2 separate regions of the Homo sapiens genome follow, and region 2 is linked to region 1. The links come from fine-mapping of genetic effects on gene expression. Tissue or cell type: putamen. Region 1 holds a variant in brackets; the other region holds the start of a gene. All regions are shown on one strand. Distances are between the middles of the regions.

Region 1 (5,232 bases):
AACTCCTGCAGACTTGTCAACATTTCTTGGGCAAGGCTACCATTCTATGGCTAGATAAGTTTCATATATGTATGTGTGTATATATTTGAGATGGTGTCTCTCTTTGTCACCCAGGCTGGAGTGCAGTGGTGCCATCTCAGCTCAACTGCAATCTCCACCTCCCAGGTTGAAGCGATTCTCCTGCCTCAGCCTCCCGAGTAGCTGGGACTACGGGTGTGCACCACCACACCCGGCCAATTTTTATATTTTTAGTAGAGACGGGGTTTCACCATGTTGGCCAGGCTGGTCTCAAACTCCTGACCTCAGGTGATCCACCTGCCTTGGCCTCCCAAAGTGCTGAGATTACAGGTGTGAGCCACTGCGCCCAGCCAAGTTTCTTATATTAAAGCAAAATATGTTTCCTTGGAACTTCTACCATGGATCCAAGTTTTATTCCTCTGGAGCCATACAAAAAATTTGTGGCCATATTTATTCTACCATGACACCCATTCTAGGAAAGTAAATCTCTACTAATCCACTTCTATGTAAAAAACCTATCACTTGTTTTTGTAAAACATTATGCCAAGTAAAAGAAGCCACATATCATATGATTCTATTTATGTGAAATGTCCAGAATAAGCAAATCTGTGGAGACAGAAAGCTGATTAGTGATTGCCTGGAGGTGAAGGGAGGAAGGGGCTGCTAATGGGTGTGAGGTTTCTTTCTGGGGTGATGAAATGTTCTGGAATAAGTGGAGATGGTCGCAAAATCCTGTGAATATACTAAAACTCTGAACTGCATGCTGCAAAAGGGTGAATTTTATGGTATGCAAATTATATCTCGATAAGCAAAAAATTAGTTTAATAAAACATTCTGTGGACTGACATGGCTCCTACCTATTGTTAATGACACTGAGCAATGTCTTCTCAGTCTGTCCCCACCCCCTCCAGGACTGCAGCCATGTGGCTGAGGTGCCCTAGCTAGGATGTCTCTAAATTGGTGGCATTTGGAGTGAGTGACAAGAATATGTTCAATCACAGTGTTCCCCACTTACTGGCTTGGTGACTTTGGCTGTCTTACTTAAAATGTCAGGTCATCAGTTTCCTCAGCTGGAAAATGGATTTTTGTAAGAACTTGATGAGATTTTGTATATAAAGTGCTTAGTCCAATGCCTGAAAGTTTAACCGTTTCTCAATAAATGTAAAAAAGAAAATCTAGGAAATTAATCCACTTTGCCCCTTGACCCCTCTGTCTCCTTCAATGATTTCACTTGCTTGTTGTTCTGGAACTCCTGATCAGCAAGCCCAGAGTCAATCAATTTTTCCCGTCCTACCTCCAAGGATACAGGGGAAAATCACACAACCATGTGGGCTGGAGCCATGAGAAACCATGATCTCCCTACTCAGTGGGGCCCTTAGTGTGTATCAGCAGTCTTCTGTTGGTCGTCTCCCCCTTCTCTGCTACTCAAGGGCTATTTCAAGCCACCACTCAAGCCCCATACTCCATTGTCAAACCCTTCTCTTTAGCAGACAACCTCACCTACCACTCACTGAGCAATGTCAGGTTACCAGGCATGGATGCCTTCAATTTCTGCCCCAACAACACCTATGAAGGCATCTACTCCAGCTGTCAGTCTCAGTACCTTCCCTCCCTGTCCTGTTCAAGGGAAATCCTTCCATCTGTGCTTTGGATGTCACCCTCTTCCAGGCTTCTGGGACTAGACCTTGTGTCATGAGTGGCTTCCTTGGATCCCAGGGCCTCTCTTCATGGCCCTAGACCTAGATGCTGTCTCCCTCATCCCACCCTGGTCCCTGGTCTACCTTTGTTTTGACTTCCTGCAGAGTCCCCCACTCTTGGCCATGCACTGACCCTTAGGATGTAAACAGCTTCTCCATTTTCAACCCTTGATGGTTGATCTTGGCCAGTTACTCACTTGATTTAGTTCTTTTTTCTTTTTTTTTTTTTGAGATGGAGTCTCTCTCTGTCACCCAGGCTGGAGTGTAGTGGCGCAATCTCGGCTCACTGCAACCTCTGACTCCCTGGTTCAAGCGATTCTCCTGCTTCAGCCTCCTGAGTAGCTAGGATTACCGGCACATGCCAATACCCTCAGCTAATTTTTGTATTTTTAGTGGAGATGGGGTTTCACCATGTTGGCCAGGATGGTTTCCATCTCTTGACCTCGTGATCCGCCTGCTTCGGCCTCCCAAAGTATTGGGATTACAGGCGTGAGCCACTGTGCCCGGCCGATCTACTTCTACATGCTGCTTCCAGGTCCCTAATCCGGCTCTCATCAGACTCAATTCCCCACCATCTCCTAGGGAAGGGATCAGAGGGGTTTAGATCATACCAGGTTTGGCTGGTTTGGCTGTGTCCTCACCCAAATCTCATCTTGAATC[G/A]TAGCTCCCATAATTCCCACATGTTGTGGGAGGGACTTGGTGGGAGATAATTGACTCACAGGGGCAGTTTCCCCCATACCGTTCTCACGGTAGTGAATGAGTCTCACGAGATCAGATGATTTTATAAGGGGAAACTCCTTTCACTTGGTTCTCATTCTCTCTTTCCTGCTGCCATATAAGAAGTCCCTCTGCTCTTCCTTTGTCTTCTGCCATGCTTGTGAGGCCTCCTCAGCCATGTGGAACTGTGAGTCCATTAAACTCTTTTTCTTTATAAATTACCCCACCTCGGGTATGTCTTTATTAGCAGTGTGAGAACAGACTAATACACCAGGATTGCATGAACTGCACTTCTCATGAAGTTTCTCTCACCTCAAGTTCAAATTAAACGTCACAATATCCAACTCCTAGCTGTTATATAGAATCCTGAAAAGTAATAGGATCCTACTGTAATTTTGCGAACTTTAATAAAGAGGTTAGTGGAAGTGATTGACTTGCGTTAGCTCGGAATACACAAGATAGTGAGATGTCAGCTTCCTAACATCATGGGGAAGTTGGACATGAGACCAAGTTTAATCAACTTCAGAAGCAAATTAGCAACAAAATATCTCTCATACCCATTCCTTTGCAGGCTTTGTTCAGCTTTTTGGCATCTCGATCCACATCAAAACCCTGAGGACTGCTCGCTTTAGCCTGGAGAAAATAATTGAAAAGGTGAGATGACAATATACGCATTCCTAAATGATCTCTGGCTAAAATCGGTAGCAAACTGGAGGACCAAATAGTCATCCTAACCAGGGACCAGCTGTCACTTCACACACTGGTACATGCGGAAATCAGCTGGGGAGACTCTGGCCCCAGAGAGGTGGCTGGTACTCCTTGGGGCCAGCTGGCCTTGGATGACCAGGAGAATGGGCCCCTCTGTTCTCAAGGACAATCATCCTGGCCAGCTCTGCAATGAGAGATTTTCATATCAACCCCACCTTTGTGTGTCTGCCTCTGAAACAAAGAATAATACTGTAAGCCAGTGTACTGGAGTGCTTGTTCTCCCCCTTTGTCATGAGACACAGCTATGTCTAAGGAATAGGTCAGAGGCTGAGGGTTCTAGGACCTTATTACAGGTTCATATGGTGACTTGGATCTTTGCCATCCATACAATGAGAGATACATATTTGGTTTGTTGGAGATACTGTAGGAACCAGTAAAAGCACAGTTTTGGTTTTAGTGCTCCTTGGGAAGGTAAAGTCCTGTTTATATAGTGTATTGAGCTGTTTCCCATACTTCAGTCATTGGCACAATACATGCACTATTGCATCCACAGTTACCTATGTCTAAATAATAAGGAAATTATTGTTTGCTTATAATTATTATTTGCTTATTATTTTCTTTTAAATTGACATTTGTTTTTACTTAAAGTTATCTTAAAAAGGAAATTTTTGTGAGCACAAAAATGGAAACCCAGTATTGCTTGCATAAATGGAAGGTAACCATAAATATAAACACATAACTATTAAAAACTGCAATTAACCTGTGAGGTTAATTGTAGTTATGCAGCTGGTAGCTAGGAACACACCCTGAGTTTCCTGTCTTTGCCTTTTCTCATGGAGCTTTTCCTAAGTGATATGTGTCCATATATTTTCTTTTCTTTTTTGAGACACAGTCTCTCTCTGTCAACCAGGCTGGAGTGAAGTGGTGCGATCTCAGCTCACTACAACCTCCACCTCCTGGGTTCAAGTGATTTTCATGCCTCAGCCTCCCCATAGCTGGGATTATAGGTGCACGCCACCATGCCTGGCTAATTTTTTGTATTTTTAGTAGAGATGGGGTTTTGCCATGTTTCCCAGGCTGGTCTTGAACTCCTGAGCTCAGGCAATCTGCCTGCCTTGGCCTCCCAAAGTGCTGGGATTACAGGTGTGAGCCACGGCGCCCGGCATGTCCATATATTTTCCATCCTTCAGTGAAGGCTGGTTTAAGTGCTACTGGCAGTAGCACCGCAGTTCAACTCTCCCTGCTTTCATATCCTTTGGCACCCAGTGGAAGTGAACAGTCAACCACATGCAGCTCAGTGGGTATGTTGCCTTTCTCTGCATGGCATCCTTATTCTCCTTATTTCCCCTTCCCCCATTGTGTGGCCTCACTGGGGCTGTCAGTCATGAGGCTTGAGCCCCTTTGTCCTGCCCTTGGTCACCAATGTAGGCACGTGTCCTGTGACTCTGGCAATCAGGATTGGTTCAGGAGTGAAGATGTAATCCAAGCAGGATTAGAGTCAATTAGAGTCTTTCCCTTGGTGGATACATAGATACTGAGAGAGATACACGTCTGCCTCCTGCTGAGTCTGCTACAGTGAAAGTGCGTGAGTCTAGGGCTCTTAGTGCCCATTTTGTCCACTACATAAAGGGAGAGAGAGAAAGAATCACATTGTACAAATCCTCAGACACAGCAGCGCCTGTGTCCTTGGGCTTCCCCGTTTCATTAGCTAGCAAACTTCCTTGGTCTAAGTTAATATGAGTTGGGTTTCCATCCTTGCGATCCAAAGTGTCCTGGCTAACATCTGTGGGCTGAAGGTGAGTTGGCTTGAGGCTTTAGTTAATGGAGAATCATAGACTCCTAGAGCCGAAAGGAACATCAGGGCCACCTATAACCTCCCTGCCTTTTGGAACATGAGGGCATGCCCCATCTCGCAGCATCTGTTCCTGAAACAAGCCAGAAAGGGGACTGACATTGTTGTACACCTGCTGTGTGCCAGGCAGTTTATAGACCTTTCTTCATTATGCATAGGGAAGAGTGGGCATTACTAGTCTGCCTTCCAGGTAAGGAAACCTGGGTTCAGGCAGGTTAGATAATTTGTTTGAGGTCTGGC
Region 2 (5,232 bases), 26 kb after region 1:
AGATTTTGTATTTACTTTTTTACATGTATTCATTCTTTGTGCACATGTTGAGTTCCTTTACTATTTTCTGAAATGTCATAGTGGTCCTGGTGTAGCCTCATGTGCTTGATTTCAAGGAGTTGTTAATGAGACACTGTTGGGAACAGAAACTAAGCCCCTAGAAGAGTTCATTTTTACATTACCTGTAAATACAGTAACAAACTTTTTGCAGGGAAAGATTTCCCTGCTTGGAAGTCACACCTGATGATGGCTGGTGGCTGGTGGAGGGTCCAACATGACAGATCACTGGGGGCTCATATTGGCCCCATGACAGAGCAGGGGTCATACCTATGATTTGGGGGGAAAATAAAGTGCTTACAGGCTGTGGGGCCTCTGGCTCTCCATTCCGTGATGGGTGGCTGAGAGGCTGCACGACTGTCGAGGGTTGGGAGTCCCCTTTAGGCAACTGTTGACTGCCTTCTGAGAGGGTGTACGACTGGCTCTGAGGATTAAAAAAAAATACATAAAAATGCTGGTCCACTCCTAAAGGCCAGCTGCTCCCTAGGTTGACTTTCAAAAGACAAAATTATCCTCCTAAGCTGTGAATGCAGGGTCCATTGATTATTCCTGGGGTCCTCTGCATCTATCAGAAATATTTGAAAAATAGGCTTCAGTTTCTCTGAAAGATACACTGAACGGATGGCTCATAATCTCTGCTGGTATGAAAATGCTATTTGTAGATGATTTGAAAAACAATGCCTTTCCTAAGAATATATTTGTAAGTTTGTAAACATCTGAGTGCAGCTTGAATATATAGCGAAGGAAAAACCTTATAGACAAAGTAACAGTTTACAGAAAGTTTTGGAGTTTTATTCTCTGCTCATAGTGTGCATGAAATATATCATTCTTGCTGTGGAAATTTACAGCAGGTACACAAAACCTTATTAAGATTTGTATTGGAATAGCTTTAGATATACTTCAATGTAAAAAATATTCAAGATTCAACTCTGATCTGTCCTGTGTGTAGTTGGTTCCAAAAGGTAGTGTTTTAGTCAGTTTTTAGTCATTAACTATTTATAGACACACTATTCAGGAGCCTAAACATTTCAAAAGAAATGTAAATTATTAAGTCCATTCCATGGATATTTGCAAATATGTGGATGTTTAGAAATAATAATGGAATATTTTCACCTTGCAATCCAAGTTGTGTGGACTTACATGAGTATTTACCTTGGTCTATTAATATTTGCAACATGAACCTATCTTTCCCACATAACTCTGAATGGGCTTAGTTTATGAAGTTTTATACAAATTTGCTACAAACTAACAGCTTTAGTTATACATTCTACAGATACATATTAACCATTTGCTCTCTGCAAGGCACTATTTACTGCCTTATTTTACATACTTCTTTCTCTTTAGCCCCTCTTAAGAGATTTTTGGCCAATAAGGGAATAATATATCCCCAGTGCTTTTTTTTTTTTTTTTTTGGGACGGAGTTTCACTCTTGTAGTCCAGGCTGGAGTGCAGTGGTGCAATCTCGGCTTATTGCAACCTCCGCCTCCCAGGTTCAAATGATTCTCCTGCCTCAGCCTCCTGAGTAGCTGGGACTACAGGCATGTTCCACCACACCTAGCTAACTTTTTTTTTTTTTTTAATTTTTTTAGTAGAGACAGTGTTTCACCATGTTGGCCAGGCTGACCTCAAACTCCTGACCTCAAGTAATCCGCCCACTCTGGCCTTGCAAAGTGCTGGGAGTACAGGTGTGAGCCACCGCACCCGGCCTCAATGCATTTTAAAAGCATGGTATGCTGTTGCTAAAACCAATATTAAAGGGTAACCATAGTGATAAAGTATACAAGTATCAGTCATGATTTTATAGTTTAAATTCTTCCACATGCTAACCAAAATTAAAACCAATTCCCAAAGGCAATGAGTACTTACATGACGATTGCCCATTTTCCTTTTTCTGAGATGGTTTTTCTGTATTTCATCAAGAGATCAGTCCTCCTACAGGCAAAGTTTACAACAGTTTTCCCCCCGGACATAATATCTCTTGTGTTTAATAAGTAACTTTTGGCACTGAATTTGAATACATTGTTGGGGATGGGTAGGGAGTGGCTCTAGCTACAGATAAACTTAGACTGCCCAGGTTTCCTTGGTACCCATGTTTTTAAAATAATATACTTCTTAATAAATAAAGTTTAGGCTTTTAAAGTTGAATAGCTTCTTCCCACCTAAAAGACTAAACCTGCCTCACTTCTGAATTGTTGAGTTATTCTTTCATATTCTGGTGTTCATTTAAAATATTATGCCTTTTAGTAATGAAAGCATTAACCAAATAGAAAAATATTACTATTTTTTACTAACATTGTTATTATTATTACAGAGAATTTTTCGAAGGCTACATTGCATTACACTAGATCATTTAAAAAATTTTACTGAGTTTTGAATTTAAAAAGTAATATGTGCAGATGGTAAATTTGTTTCTAATAATACATAAAGGTCCTGTGAAAAGTCGGCCTACTGACTTCCTTTTTCCTTCCCCCAGAGGTTTTCCGTGAGTCCTTCCTGAAGTGGTCCATGCATATTCAGCTATGTCCGTCGGTCTGCCTGTCTAGTTACCTACCTCTCTGTTTATCTTGATCCAACTTGTCTTTTCTTCCTCACCAAATGGGTTTGTACAATGTATTCTGTTCCATGCCTTGCATATTTCTTGTCTTTCCTTTTTTTTTCTGAGATTATTACAACATGTTTCTTTTTTTATTTGTACAAACTTATGTGGTACATAAGACATTTTGTTACATGCATATAATGAGTAGTGATCAAGTCAGGGTATTGAGAGTGTTTGCCTGAGTACAATAGATTTCTGTTGAGTACAGCCACCGTACTCTACTATCCAACACTGAATTTATTCCTTCCATCTTAGTGTGTGTTTGTACCCTTTAACCCACTTCTCCTCTTCCCCCGCAACTCACCCTTTCCAGTCTCTTTTCTCCATCTATCCACTCTCTACCTTCATGTGATCAATTTTTTAGCTCCCACATTTAAGGGAGAACATGTGATATTTGTTATAAGGGAGAACATGTGATATTTGTCTTTTTGTGCCTTGCTTATTTCACTTAATATAGTGTATATTTCATATACTAAAGAGATATTTGACACTGGCACATTTCTTTTTCAGTGGCCATGTAGTCAACTGTTATGGATATGAACCAAACCTTATTTCATCAGTCTACCGTTGAAGGTCATTTAGATTGTTTTTGATCTTTTGCATGAATATCTCATACACATCTTTGTTGTGCTTTCTTATCTGTAGAATAAAATCTTAGAATAGAGTTGCTGGCTAAAGACTATGTGCACTGAAAATTCTGATAGCTGTTGCCAAGTTGTCCTCCACACTGACATAAAATGCTGGACCACTCTTAAAGACCAGCTGATCCATGAGGCTTACTTTAAAAAAATGAAAATTTCACTCCCACTATATGAATATACCAGTGTGATTTTCCCTACATATTGGCTAACACTAAATATTGTCAAACTTTGTCATTTCTGCCAACTTCAAAGATAAAAACATGGTGTTTTATTAAATTTACATTTCTTTCATTTGATATCCTGGAAATTGTATATCCCATTTCTTTAAAGCCATTTGTGTATTTTTTTCTGTGGTTTGCTTGTTTGTGGTCTTTATTTTTCTTTTGAGTTATTAGTATTTTCATTATTTGTTTGTAAAACACTTTATTTATAATAAAATCTAGGCCTTCATGAAGTGTAACAATTATTTTTCCCCAGTTTGTTATCTTTTGTCTTTGTTTGTTTTGAGGGTATATATGTGAAGAAAGTATTAGCTCTGATGTATTCAAATATATCAGTCTTTTATTTTTGACTTGCTTAGAAAAACCATTTCTGCATTAAGATGCTTAAATCTTCTTGCATAAGTGTTCCTCCAAGTTCTTTTAATGGCTTAATTTTCAAAGGCTTATATCTTTGATTCATCTGGAATTGATTTTGACATACATTAAGGAAGGAAGGGTGTGTTAGGCTGTTCTTTCATGGCTATAAAGAAAGAACCGGAGGCTGGGTAATTTATAAGGAAAAGTGGTTTTATTTTGGCATATGGTTCTGCAGGCTGTATAGGAAGCATGGTGCTTCCTTTCTGGAGGGCCTCAGGGAGCTTACAATTATGGAGGAAAGTGATGGAGAACCAGTATGTCTCATGGCAAGAGCAGGAGCAAGAGAGGAAGTGCAGAGGTGCCACACATTTCTCAACAACCAGATCATGTGTGAACGCAGAGCAAGAGCTCTCTTATCACCAAAGGGATGGCACCGAGCCATTAATGAGGGATCCACCCCCATGATTCAACACCTCCTGCCAGGTCCAACATCCAGTATTGAGAATTACATTTCAACAGGAGATAGGGAGGGGACAAACATCCAAACTATATCAAAGGGAGTCAGCTTAGTTTTTGTTATTCAGTCAATCCTAGACAGTTACTGGATAATGCACTTTTCCACTATTGGTCTAAGATGCCACTTTTATTTAAAGCTAATTTCTTATGTAACATAGAATTAAAATTTTGTATAGGTTTATTAAATTCTGATTTTATATATTTATTATTTTGTTCTTTAAACTATTATCTGTTGAGTGCCTTGGATGTGCTAATTGTTGGAAAGACGGACAGGATGGATATGGATTTTCCCTTCCTAGAACTTGCAGTCAAATTTCTATACAAGAAACAAACAAATAAATAATTATAAATTGTCATATGGGCTATGGAGAAGATAAGCAGGACGCTAGAATAAAGAGTAACCCGTGTGTGTGTGTGCACATAAGAGTATGTGTGTGTGTGCACACGTGTGTGTGTGTGTACTTTGCTTTAAATGAAGAAAGGGCTTTTCAAGGAGCTCACACTGAAGCTGTGAATTAAAAGAAGGAGTTCATCATTTAAAAAGAGAAAGTGCTCCAAATTGGATGTTCTTAGCTTGTGCTAAGGCTCAACATAGGAAAGAGCTTTGTGAATTGGAGAAAATAAAAGATGTCATTGAGACTGGAGACTATTGGGTGCCACACAGGGTGCCTGGTGTGGAAATATAGTGGTGGGCAAGACAAACTCTCCTCCAGGAATTGACAGCAGAATGAGGGAGAAGAGAAGAAGATGTAGGTTAATGACCACTGCTTTGAACACTCACTATTATTTTTTCTTTAGTGTTGAATTTTTGTTTTATTATCCTCTGTCTCCTTTTGCCAGCCCA

What was found. PIP is the estimated chance that this variant, and not a neighbour inherited with it, causes the effect.
Region 2: it holds the start of ANXA13, and the variant in region 1 is fine-mapped to the expression of ANXA13 in putamen (GTEx, PIP 0.91).

Annotation. Positions count from the first base shown.
Region 1 is chr8:123,709,689-123,714,920 of GRCh38, forward strand. ANXA13 (annexin A13) reads right to left here. Exons shown (of 11, transcript NM_004306.4): 2 at 2,990-3,065. Among named protein-coding and RNA genes, the nearest start is that of ANXA13, 25 kb to the right of the region's middle. The variant G/A (reference allele first, on the strand shown) is at 2,376.
Region 2 is chr8:123,735,397-123,740,628 of GRCh38, forward strand. ANXA13 (annexin A13) reads right to left here and starts at 1,997. Exons shown (of 11, transcript NM_004306.4): 1 at 1,924-1,997. The coding sequence starts at 1,938. All of the region lies in intron 1 of LOC105375739 (a long non-coding RNA gene), which reads left to right.